Homo sapiens: one gene and its partners. The gene in region 3 interacts genetically with the main gene of each other region. Each region holds a gene or a part of one and is shown on either strand. Other genes may lie near its edges. The genes, in order: RINT1, BNIP1 and EXOSC2.

Region 1 (3,651 bases), on a different chromosome or scaffold from region 3:
TTTTTTTTTGAGATGGAGTCTCACTCTGTCACCCAGGCTGGAGTGCAGTGGCATGATCTCGGCTCACTGCAACCTCTGCTGCCCAGGATCAAGCAATTCTTTTGCCTCCGCCTCCCAAGTAGCTGGGATTATAGGCACCTGCTGCCACGCCCAGCTAATTTTTGAATTTTTAGTAGAGACGGGGTTTCACCATCTTAGCCAGGCTGGTCTTGAACTCCTGACCTTGTGATCCACCTGCCTCGGCCTCCCAAAGTGCTGGGATTACAGGCATGAGCCACCGTGCCCAGTCATCATTCCATATTTTTAACTATAAGAAAAATATGAAAAATACTAAGACAAAAAAATTAAGGAAAATTCATGTCTCTTAAAAACTTTTTATTCAGAAAATTTTCAAACATACACAAAAGTAGGATAATATGATGAACTCTCAGGTACCTATTGCCAAAGTTTAAAGCAATTATCACTTTTCTGTTATATTTTACTCCTCAATTTTTTTTTTCTGGAGTATTTCAAAGAAAATTTCAGACATCTCATCATGTCAATTGTAAATTCTTTTTTTTGAGACAGAATTTCGCTCTTGTCACCCAGGCTGGAGTGCAATGGCGCAATCTCGGCTTACTGCAACCTCCGCCTCCTGGGTCCAAGCAATTCTCCTACCTCAGCCTCCTGAGTAGCTGGGATTACAGATGCCTGCCACCATGCCTGGTTAATTTTTTTTTGTATTTTTACTAAAAATACAAAAATTTACAGGCAGTTGGCCAGGCACGGTGGCTCACACCTGTAATCCCAGCACTTTGGGAGGCTGAGGTGGGCAGGTCACGAGGTCAGGAGATCGAGACCATCCTGGCTAACACAGTGAAACCCCGTCTCTACTAAAAATACAAAAAAATTAGCCAGGCATGGTGGCGGCTCTACTAGAGATGGGGTTTCATATTGCCCAGACTGGTCTCGAACTCCTGACCTCAGGTGATCCACCTGCCTCGGCCTCCCAAAGTGCTGGGATTACAGGCGTGAGCCACCATGCCTGCCTGTAAATTGTCTTTTTTTTTTTTCTTTGAGACAGAGTCTCGCTCTGTCGCCCAGGCTGGAGTGCTGTGGCGCAATCTCGGCTCACTGCAAGCTCCACCTCCTGGGTTCACACCATTCTCCTACCTCAGCCTCCTGAGTAGCTGGAACTACAGGCACCCGTCACCATACCCAGCTAATTTTTTTTTTTTTTTTTTTTTTTTTTTTTGAGATGGAGTCTCACTCTGTCGCCCAGGCTGGAGTGCAGTGGCGCCATCTCAGCTCACCGCAAGCTCTGCCTCCCGGGTTCACGCCATTCTCCTGCCTCAGCCTCCCGAGTAGCTGGGACTACAGGCACCCGCCACCACACTCGGCTAATTTTTTGTATTTTTAGTAGAGATGGGGTTTCACCGTGTTAGCCAGGATGGTATTGATCTTCTGACCTCGTGATCCACCCGCCTCAGCCTCCCAAAGTGCTGGGATTACAGGCGTGAGCCACTGTGCCCGGCGAATTTTTTTGTATTTCTAGTAGAGACAGGGTTTCACTGTGTTAGCCAGGATGGTCTTGATCTCCTGACCTCGTGATCCACCCACCTCGGCCTCCCAAAGTGCTGAGATTACAGGTGTGAGCCACCGTGCCCGGCCAACTGCCTGTAAATTCTTAAATGTGTATCTTTTAATTTATTGAAGTTCTTTCTTTTTTAAAAAAATGCTGTTTATTTGTGTTGAAGAAACTGTCATTTTTTTTTCTTTCTTTTTTTTTTTTTGTTAGATGGAGTCTCACTCTGTTGCCTAGGCTGGAAAGCAGTGGTGCCATGTTGGCTCACTGCAACCTCCACCTCCCGGGTTCAAGCAATTCTCCTGCCTCAGACTCCCAAGTAGCTGGGATTACAGGCACACGCCACTACTGCCCGGCTAATTTTTGTAGTTTTGGTAGAGATGAGGTGTCACCATGTTGGCCAGGCTAGTCTTGAACTCCTGACCTCAGTTGATCCACCTGCCTTGGCCTCACAAAGTGCTGGGATTACAGGCGTGAGCCACCACGACTGGCCAAAACTGTCATTTTTATGTATAATTTTTTCATTTGCCTTTTTGAAAACTTGAGGTATAGTTTACATACAGTGTAATGTGCAGATCTTATTTGTATTGTTCAATGAGTTTTGGCAAATGTATATACTTTTGAAACTCACATCCTTAAGAGAGCTCAGAAATAAATCCATTCTTGACTACTGGTCAATTGATTTTTGACAAAAGCACTGAAGCAGGACAGTAGGGAAAACTTATAACTATATCATAGATGGTACCAAAACCTTCATATGTCTTAATAACTTTTTCCACAGACAGGTATAAAAATCTTCCCACAGCTTCCCGAAAGCTTCAGTTCCTGGAGTTACAGAAGGACTTAGTAGATGATTTTAGGATACGATTAACACAAGTGATGAAAGAAGAGACTAGAGCTTCCCTTGGCTTTCGATACTGTGCAATTCTTAATGCTGTGAACTACATCTCAACAGTACTAGCAGATTGGGCTGACAATGTTGTGAGTTAATATGCTTTTATATTAAGTAATATATACTAGTTCGAACTATTTTATTAATACTTTTCAAAATGTTGAATCTATTGCAAGCAAAAATAAACATGCTAGACAGAACCATAGTGCCATAATTAAAAGGTGTAATTAAAATACACATTTTTCTCAATCAAATCTCAAGTAGTTAAATAGTCCTGATATTTTAATGTATTTAATCATTGGAAAGGCAAGCAAGCCTTTCATGAAATAGTTGTTTATAGAGTGAACCATACTTGGAAATATTCATGTATGGTAATTGCAATCACAGGAAGAGCTAAGATTAAATAATGATGTCAAAAGCAATCCAGGACTTTAAGGAAAATAAAAGAATAATGTTTAATACCTCTTGAATGTCTTCAAAACATGACAGATTATAAAGAGTCATGAAAATAGGAAGAAACATTTAAAGTTTTAATTGTTTCATACATTAAAAATCTATTTGGCTGGGTGCAGTGGCTCATGCTCTTAATCCCAGCACTTTAGGAGGCTGAGATGGGAGAATTGCTTGAGCCCAGGAGTTGGAGACCAACCTGGGCAACATAGGGAGACCCCATTTCTCCAAAGAATAAAAAATAAAATAAAATTAGCCAGGTGTGGTGGCATATGCCTGTAGTCCGAGCTACTTGGGAGGCTGAGGTGGGAGGATCACTGGAGCCCAGAAATTCATGACCAGCTGTGCAACATAGTGAGACCCTGTCTCTACAAAAAATAAAAATAAGAAACTAACATTTCATGTATCAAATTTTCAAATATATGCAAGAGTAAATAGAATAGGAAAATGAACTTCTGTGGCGTGGCTATCACTCAACTTCTTTTTTTTTTTTTTGTGACAGAGTTTCGCTCTTGTTGCCCGGGCTGGAGTGCAATGGTGCGATCTCGGCTCACTGCAACCTCTGTCTCCTGGGTTCAAGGGATTATCCTGCCTCAGCCTCCTGAGTAGCTGGGATTACAGGCACCCGCCACCATGCCTGGCTAATTTTTTTTTTAGTAGTAGAGACGAGTTTTCACCTTATTGGCCAGGCTGGTCTCAAACTCCTGACCTCAGGTGATCCACCTGCTTCTGCCTCCCAAAGTGC
Region 2 (3,508 bases), on a different chromosome or scaffold from region 3:
GAGGTATCAGCCACCACACCTGGTTGAACAGGGGCTGTTGGACCCTCCTTCCTGATAGTCTGTGAGATTTTATTTCCGTGTCTCCTTCTGTTCCTCCTTGAGGGAGGAACCATGTCTGGTTCACCAATGTATTTGTCATGTTCAGCAGCGTCTATAACACCCTGTGTGTGGCAGCTGTTTAATAGTTCCTTGTTGTTGGGTGGGGACAGAAAGAAAATAACAATGCTAATTCGTTGTTGAATGAATGAATAAATAAATAATCTAGGTTCATGTCCTAAAAATCTGGACATCAAGAAAAGAGGGCTGGGCATGGTGGCTCACACCTGTAATCCCAGCACTTTGGGAGGCCAAGATGGGTGGATCACCTGAGGTCAGGTGTTCGACAGCAGCCTGGCCAACATGGAGAAACCCCATCTCTACTAAAAAAATACAAAAATTAGCTGGGTATGGTGGTGTGTGCCTGTAATCCTAGCTACTTGGGAGGCTGAGGCAAGAGAATCTTTTGAACCCAGGAGGCAGAGGCTGCAGTGAGCCAAGATTGCGCCATTGCACTCCTGCCTGGATGATAGAGCAAGTCTCCATCTCAAAAAAAAAGAAAAAAGAAAAGAGGAACACACATTCCCAGAGGGCTATCTTACAAAATCAAATACATTTTATTCTATTAAATAAAATCAAGTTTATTCAAGGAATGACCAGGAGTTTTCATCACCTTTCTTCCTACCTCTTCTCTCTTCCCTCCACCAGATCTGGCATTTAAGGGCACGATGGGAGCGGGAGACAGGAGGGGCATCCGGTCCTGGAGGCTGGACTTTAAGTGCTCCACGCAGCAGCGGCCTCCCATAGTGCACAATGGTGGAAGGAGGCGGTTCGTATGTCCCCAGGGCGGCATCCCAATGCCAGACCTTCCTCCCATGGCTCTGTTCACCCTTTACAAGCCAGCTACTTGCAGAAAAGTGGGGCACTGTGTTCCATCCAACCTGCAGGCAACTGGTGCAAACGGAGGGGTGTGTGGCTCAGCTTAGCAGCCTAGAGCTCAGGAACCAGGACAGATCCTGAAACAGGAGCTGAAAGGGCCAGAACTGGCACCTTTGGGATCTCACAAAAATGGAAAGAGCCGCTTTTTCACAATATAGAGGACCGTAGCAAGAAACAGGGCTAGCGCAAGGAAGATGAGAAGCTTGTCCGTCAGCTCCCGGCGATTGTATTTTGTGATAAGCTTCCGGCCCAGCTGGATGGTGCCCGACATGGACTTAAATTCTTCATTTGCATCCAGGATCGTTCGTGAAGAAGTGACTGAAACAAAAGAGGAAGGAGGCCCAACTCAGAGACTGCAGCTCAAGATCCAAAGACCTCACTCTGCTGGCTGGGGTGCTGATAAAAACCAGCATTCTCAAGTGAGTTCCTCTGAGCTGGAATCAAAGCATGTGGAGACCAGCCAAGGAGCTGACAAGGAAAGGCTCCTCCCCAGGTCCCATCAGCTCCAGAGAGTGAGGGGGGGTTTGTCTGGGAGTCCTTGAACATGAGCGTCACCAGGGAGAAGGGCAGAAGAGGCTTGCTCACCCAGCCACCTCCTCAGCTCTCTGAAGCAGATGGACGCTGCTCAGGGAAACCACCAGCCACAAAATCAACCCAGGGATCGTGGGCAGGCACTGTGAGGTCTGTGTTGGGGCAGCAGCCAAATGCACCAGAACCTTCCACCTATGAGGTGCGGCCTCCAGGACATCTGCTGGCCAGACCGGCACTTTGCAGGATCTCAAAAGGGCAAGGGTGTCCCGGGCTCTGCCGTAAGCCCTCACACATACCAGTCCCTCAGGCCAGGGATACTGGCTGTAGCTTTAAGGAGGTGACACCTAAGAAGAGGCCCACGTCCCTTAAGGAATCACTGTCCCCAGAGTCAGATGTATTTCTGAATATGGGTATCTGGGCCTGACGCTGAGGGTAGAAGGTGTACCTGGCGAGGTTCTCCCACAAAACATAGCAAGGCATCATCAGAACAGCCATTGAATAGAACACATTAAGTGAAAAGGGAAAGTATAAAGGAACGCCTGTGAAATGTTTCCATTTAGGTAAGAAACAGGGAGATAAATGGTATTTCATTTGCTTAAGTTACAAAAGCTTGGAGGATCACAAGATATTTTTTAAGACACTGGTTACAGAGGTTGCCTCTGGGAAGTGGACCAGAGGGCTGGCAGGTAGGGGTCAGCTGGAGGTCAGAACAGAGAGTGATCTTTTTTGTGTCCCTTTTGTACTCTCCAGAGCTGTGCTGACCAATATGGCAGCCCCTAGACATGCGAGGCTGCTGTGCATAGAAAAACGTGGCTAATGCAAATGGAGATGTCAGGAGATGTAAGTGTCAAACCCACACAATGTTTCTTTTCTTTTTTTTTTTGAGATGCAGTCTCACTCTGTCACCCAGGCTGGAGTGCAGTGGCGTGATCTTGGCTCATCACAACCTCCACCTCCCAGGTTCAAATGATTCTCCTGCCTCAGCCTCCCCAGTAGCTGGGACTACAGGCATGCACCACCACGCCCAGCTAATTTTCTTTTTGTATTTTTAGTAGAGACAGGGTTTCAACATGTTGGTCAGGCTGGTCTCGAACTCCTGACCTCAAGTGATCTGCCCGCCTTGGCCTCCCAAAGTGCTGGGATTACCGGCATGAGCCACCGCGCCTGGCCAAAATCCACACGATGTTTCAAAGACTTAATCTAAGAAAAAGGAATGTAAAATATCTCAATAGTTTTTAATATTAGTTTTACATTGAAATTATAATATTTTACATAATGGGTTAAATAAACATCTTACTAAAATTAATTTCTTATGTTTCTTTTTACTTTTTAACATGTGCCTACTGGAAAATTTAAAGTTACATACGTGGCTGCTGTTGCGTTTCTATGGCAGTCCTGGGCTAGAGTTTTCTTATCCTTCTCTATGCTGTATGTGTTACCTTTTTAAAAATTAAAAGCTAATAAGTAAATAGGATAAATTATCAGAGGAAACACAGCAGCGTTTTGAAAATGACAGATAAAAGGAGAAAAACAAACACTCACAGAACAGGAATCCCTCTCCGCCTGCTTTCTCCACGCCTGCCTGCTGCGATTTCAAAACCCTGAGATCTTGCTAAGTAAAAATCTAATAGGCCTTTCTTTTTAAACTTTATTATTACGGAGAATTTTGAACCATCACAGAGCAGACAGCATAATATCATGAAATGCCATGTGTCCACCACCCATAACCAAGAACCACCAACCTCTGAAATCCTGCTCCCCCTCCCCCCAACTGCAACTACTCCTGCAATTGTGGAGCAAATTCCAGACACCATATTCCTAATAAGCTTTTTGTTTTAAAATTATGGTCCTAGTAGGCTTTTAAATCAAGCTGAATTTGTGAGGCATAAGGAAAGGGTTAAGAACTGTATTCTTCTCTTTTCTTCAATAGTTATCGCTTGTACAAAATGGGCCCCAAGAACACCGGGACCCTCTCAACACCCCAGAAGCCACCAGCATTTGT
Region 3 (3,651 bases):
CATTGCACTCCAGCCTGGGCAACAAGAGTGAAACTCCGTCTCAAAAAAATAAATAAATAAATAAATAAATAAATAAATAAATAAATAAAATAAAGACAGAGGCCAGGCATGGTGGCTCATGCCCGTAATCCCAGCACTTTGGGAGGCCGAGGTGGGCAGATCACCTGAGGTCAGGAGTTTGAGACCAGCCTGGCCAATATGGTGAAACCTGTCTCTACTAAAAATACAAAAATTAGCCAGGCATGACGCACGCCGGTAATCCTAGCTATTTGGGAGGCTAAGGCAGAATTGCTTGAATCCAAGAGGCGGACGTTGCAGTGAGCCGAGATCGCGCCACTGCACTCCAGTCTGGGCAACAGAGCAAGACTCCGTCATTAAAAAAAAAGAAAAATTTAAAAAATAACATAAAATAGAGACAGAGTCTTGTTCTGTCACCCAAGCTGGAATGCAGTGGTGTGATCATAGCTTACTGTAGCCTTGAGCTCCTGGGCTCAAGCAACCCTCTGGCCCCAGCCTCCTGAGTAGCTAGGACTACAGGCATGTGCCACCACGCCCGGCTAATTCTTTTTTAATTTTTTTGTAGAGAGGGGGGTCTTGCTATGTTGCCCAGGCTGGTCTTGAACTCTTAGGCTCAAGCAGTCCTCCCTCCTTGGCCTTCCAAAGCGCTGGGATTACAGGCATGAGTCACCACACTCGGCCTGTCATTAATATCTTGACGTGAACAACACCTTCTCCACTCCCTGCGCTAAAAGTTAACACCATTAACAAAAGCCTAGTCTAAAGCACAGGCCACCGTAAGTTACAAGACCCAAAGAAATGACTTAGCAGCAGGTCCCAACAAGAGCTGGGGAGTCAGCCTGAATTAAGGAGACTGAGAAAGGATGCAGCAGAGCCCGACACTTGGTCTAAGACTCGGATCCCTGCAAGGATGACATGGTTCTTCCGTCAGAGACATACAATGGAAGGCCCATTTCCCAGTCCCACAGAAAAGCATCAAGAGGCTGGAGTGCAAAGCGCAGGATACACTGATAAGGTCCCCTTCCTGTAAGAAACCTCTCATTGCAAGCTCATCTTCTGCAGATCTTCTCCTCTGAAATACACAAAGAAATGACATTACTTAAGCCAGATCCTCAGAAAGGTCTCCATCACTTCTCTTTCACTTCCTTTTGAGATGTTTGAGGCCAACCACAATATTCAAGCACTGAGAACTATAGCAAGAGTAGGTAACCCAAGCCACTTGAGGGGAATCAGTGATAATCACGACTTTCCATCTCAAAAGACTTTTCCACAGCTCCTCTTCCTCTTTCCCTCCCTTCTCTGAGGAACATTCAGACCCCTCCCAATCTCACCTAGCCAACATTTCCATAGTCATCTTCCATGACAGCCCTCTGTGGTCCAGCAGGACCAGACTAACTCCTGCTTGGATATATCTCTGCTCATACATTTCCCTTTATCTCAGATTCCCTGAACTAGTCATTCAAAGTCTCTCCATCCTTCCAGGATCAACTCCAATGCCTGTCTTTCCTACAAGCTTCTCTCACTGAAATTTCCTTTTGTATAACCACAGCTTATTTATTCTTCTACTGCCAGGGACTAGGTCAGTTATCTTATATCCCCTGCTGGGGAACTCAATCGTGCTTGGCACTCGGCACAGAGCTTGGCACAGTAAGCCTCTCTGTAAATACACGCTGGACTGAAGATCAAGGTGAACCATGGCATTTTACAAAAGGCTGTGGCTTAGTTACTGTGGTTGTCTGGAATGCCAGCAACCACATTCCACACATGGTTGAATGAAATGCCTTTCAATTCACAAAAACCTAATGTAAAGACAACTTTTCAAGGAACATCTTCACTATGCAAGGCTGTTATATCCAAAAAGGAAAACTGTTAACAACCAGCATCTAAGGGCTTCTCTCCCCAACTCTCTGTTGGGATCCCACCCCATGGATGTTTCTGATCCTACCATATGCCAACTGCTCCCTCTTTCGGGAGACCTGGACAGGGTGAAAAGTCTACATACACATCTAGGCAGCAAACTTCACAGCAGACAAACAGGAGTCAAAGGGGCAACCTCAGTGTAAATCAAAGTCCTCTGGTGGAACAAAGGGTCCCACGGCTCCCCCCAGCCCACTGGGCCCTAGTCCATGGCCCCAGCTGTAGCCCTTACCAGCTCTCCTCCAGGAAGGTTCATGGACGAGAGCAGCAAGACCGAATCCAGCCTGGAGTTGGTCTCCACCTTCCACCTCTTCTGTTGAACCTATAAGCCAAGTTCCACACCTGGACACATGCTCCATGTTCATGTGTCATATCATAAATAACCAGTAAGGCCAGATGTGGTGGCTCACGCCTGTAATCCCAGCACTTTGGGAGGCCGAAGCTGGTGGATCACTTGAGGTCAGGAGTTTGAGACCAGCCTGACCAATATAATGAAACCCCATCTCTACTAAAAATACAAAAATTAGCTGGGCGTGGTGGCGGGTGCCTGTAATCCCAGCTACTTGGGAGGCTGAGGCAGGAGAATCGCTTGAACCTGGGAGGTGGAGGTTGCAGTGAGCCAAGATCATGCCACTGCACTCCAGCCTGGGCGACAGAGCGAGACTCCATCTCAAAAAAAAAAAAACATGAACCAGTAATCTGAAATCGAACAAGCCACATATTTACATCAGAAGCCACACAACGGCCAAATGCAATGAATGCCTTTTTCATGTAACTACAAGTGGAATGACTGTCCCATGAATGAAATCGCCAGCCTGCCTCGACTTTGTAAACACCAATCTGATATCGACGTTACCTCTGTGATTCGTCCCACTACGATGTCTCCTACTTCACCAATGTATCTGAAAGACAAAACACAAGGGGTTCATCCATCTGTGAGCAGACTTTCTGACAAGACCACACACCATTTGAGATGTCGGTTCAACAGGGTGAAAGCCTGGAACAGGCGCCACATTCAGCAAATTCATGTAACTATATTGTCTGGACTTACTTTCAGAAACTGCTAACTTCAAACATTCCTCCACGTATAAAGTCTCCATTAACTATCCTTAGACATATCACCATTCCAAGTAGTTCATTTAGCCCAAAAACCCTATTTTGTTCGATTACACGACAATGAAAAACACGGACTATTTTCCTGTGGCACATGGATGAGTTCTGCACCAGCCAAAGGAAGAGAAAGGAAATCTGAGCCAGGACTCCAACCACACAAGTCTGCTCACGTCTCCTCCACTTACTCACTGCCTGCTCCTCTCAAGCCCCTTTGCTAGTTCCTTACCCGCGATTCTAATGAGACGTACTCAGTGCTGAGGCTAAGTCCTTAGACCTCTTCACTTTTCGGCCACTCAATCTAATACCTTTAAAACACCACTCTGTGCTGTGACTGTGCCACTCTCCTGAATTCCAAATCCTACTCAACTGCTAGCTACCCAACTCTGCCATCTAGATGACTAACAGGCATTTTCAAATGTATCAAGCACAAAACTAAGCTTTCCCGCAGCCCCCTCCAGTCCTCCATAGCAAACCGAGATAGGGGATGAGTTGTCCCCATCTCAGTCAACGGTGACTCCATCCCCTCAGTTGCTCAGGCCAAAAACCTCGGAGAGTTCCTTGATTCCTCTCTCTCTCTCACGCTCCAGGACAAGTCCAGTAGCA

What was found.
Region 1: changes in EXOSC2 (region 3) and RINT1 together harm fitness more than expected from each alone (negative genetic interaction), as found in Homo sapiens cells (one large-scale study listed by BioGRID).
Region 2: changes in EXOSC2 (region 3) and BNIP1 together harm fitness more than expected from each alone (negative genetic interaction), as found in Homo sapiens cells (one large-scale study listed by BioGRID).

The regions. Positions count from the first base shown.
Region 1 is NC_000007.14:105,552,683-105,556,333, forward strand, and holds part of RINT1 (RAD50-interacting protein 1), read left to right. Parts: intron 1-2,345; coding exon 2,346-2,545; intron 2,546-3,651. UniProt on the Homo sapiens protein: Involved in regulation of membrane traffic between the Golgi and the endoplasmic reticulum (ER); the function is proposed to depend on its association in the NRZ complex which is believed to play a role in SNARE assembly at the ER.
Region 2 is NC_000005.10:173,161,510-173,165,017, reverse strand, and holds the end of BNIP1 (vesicle transport protein SEC20), read right to left. Parts: intron 2,946-3,508; coding exon of another isoform or gene 2,873-2,945; intron 2,707-2,872; coding exon of another isoform or gene 2,694-2,706; exon of another isoform or gene 2,658-2,693; intron 1,294-2,657; coding exon 1,097-1,293; 3' UTR 631-1,096; downstream 1-630. UniProt on the Homo sapiens protein: As part of a SNARE complex may be involved in endoplasmic reticulum membranes fusion and be required for the maintenance of endoplasmic reticulum organization. Also plays a role in apoptosis.
Region 3 is NC_000009.12:130,696,768-130,700,418, reverse strand, and holds part of EXOSC2 (exosome complex component RRP4), read right to left. Parts: intron 2,838-3,651; coding exon 2,792-2,837; intron 2,258-2,791; coding exon 2,168-2,257; intron 1,091-2,167; coding exon 1,025-1,090; intron 1-1,024. UniProt on the Homo sapiens protein: Non-catalytic component of the RNA exosome complex which has 3'->5' exoribonuclease activity and participates in a multitude of cellular RNA processing and degradation events.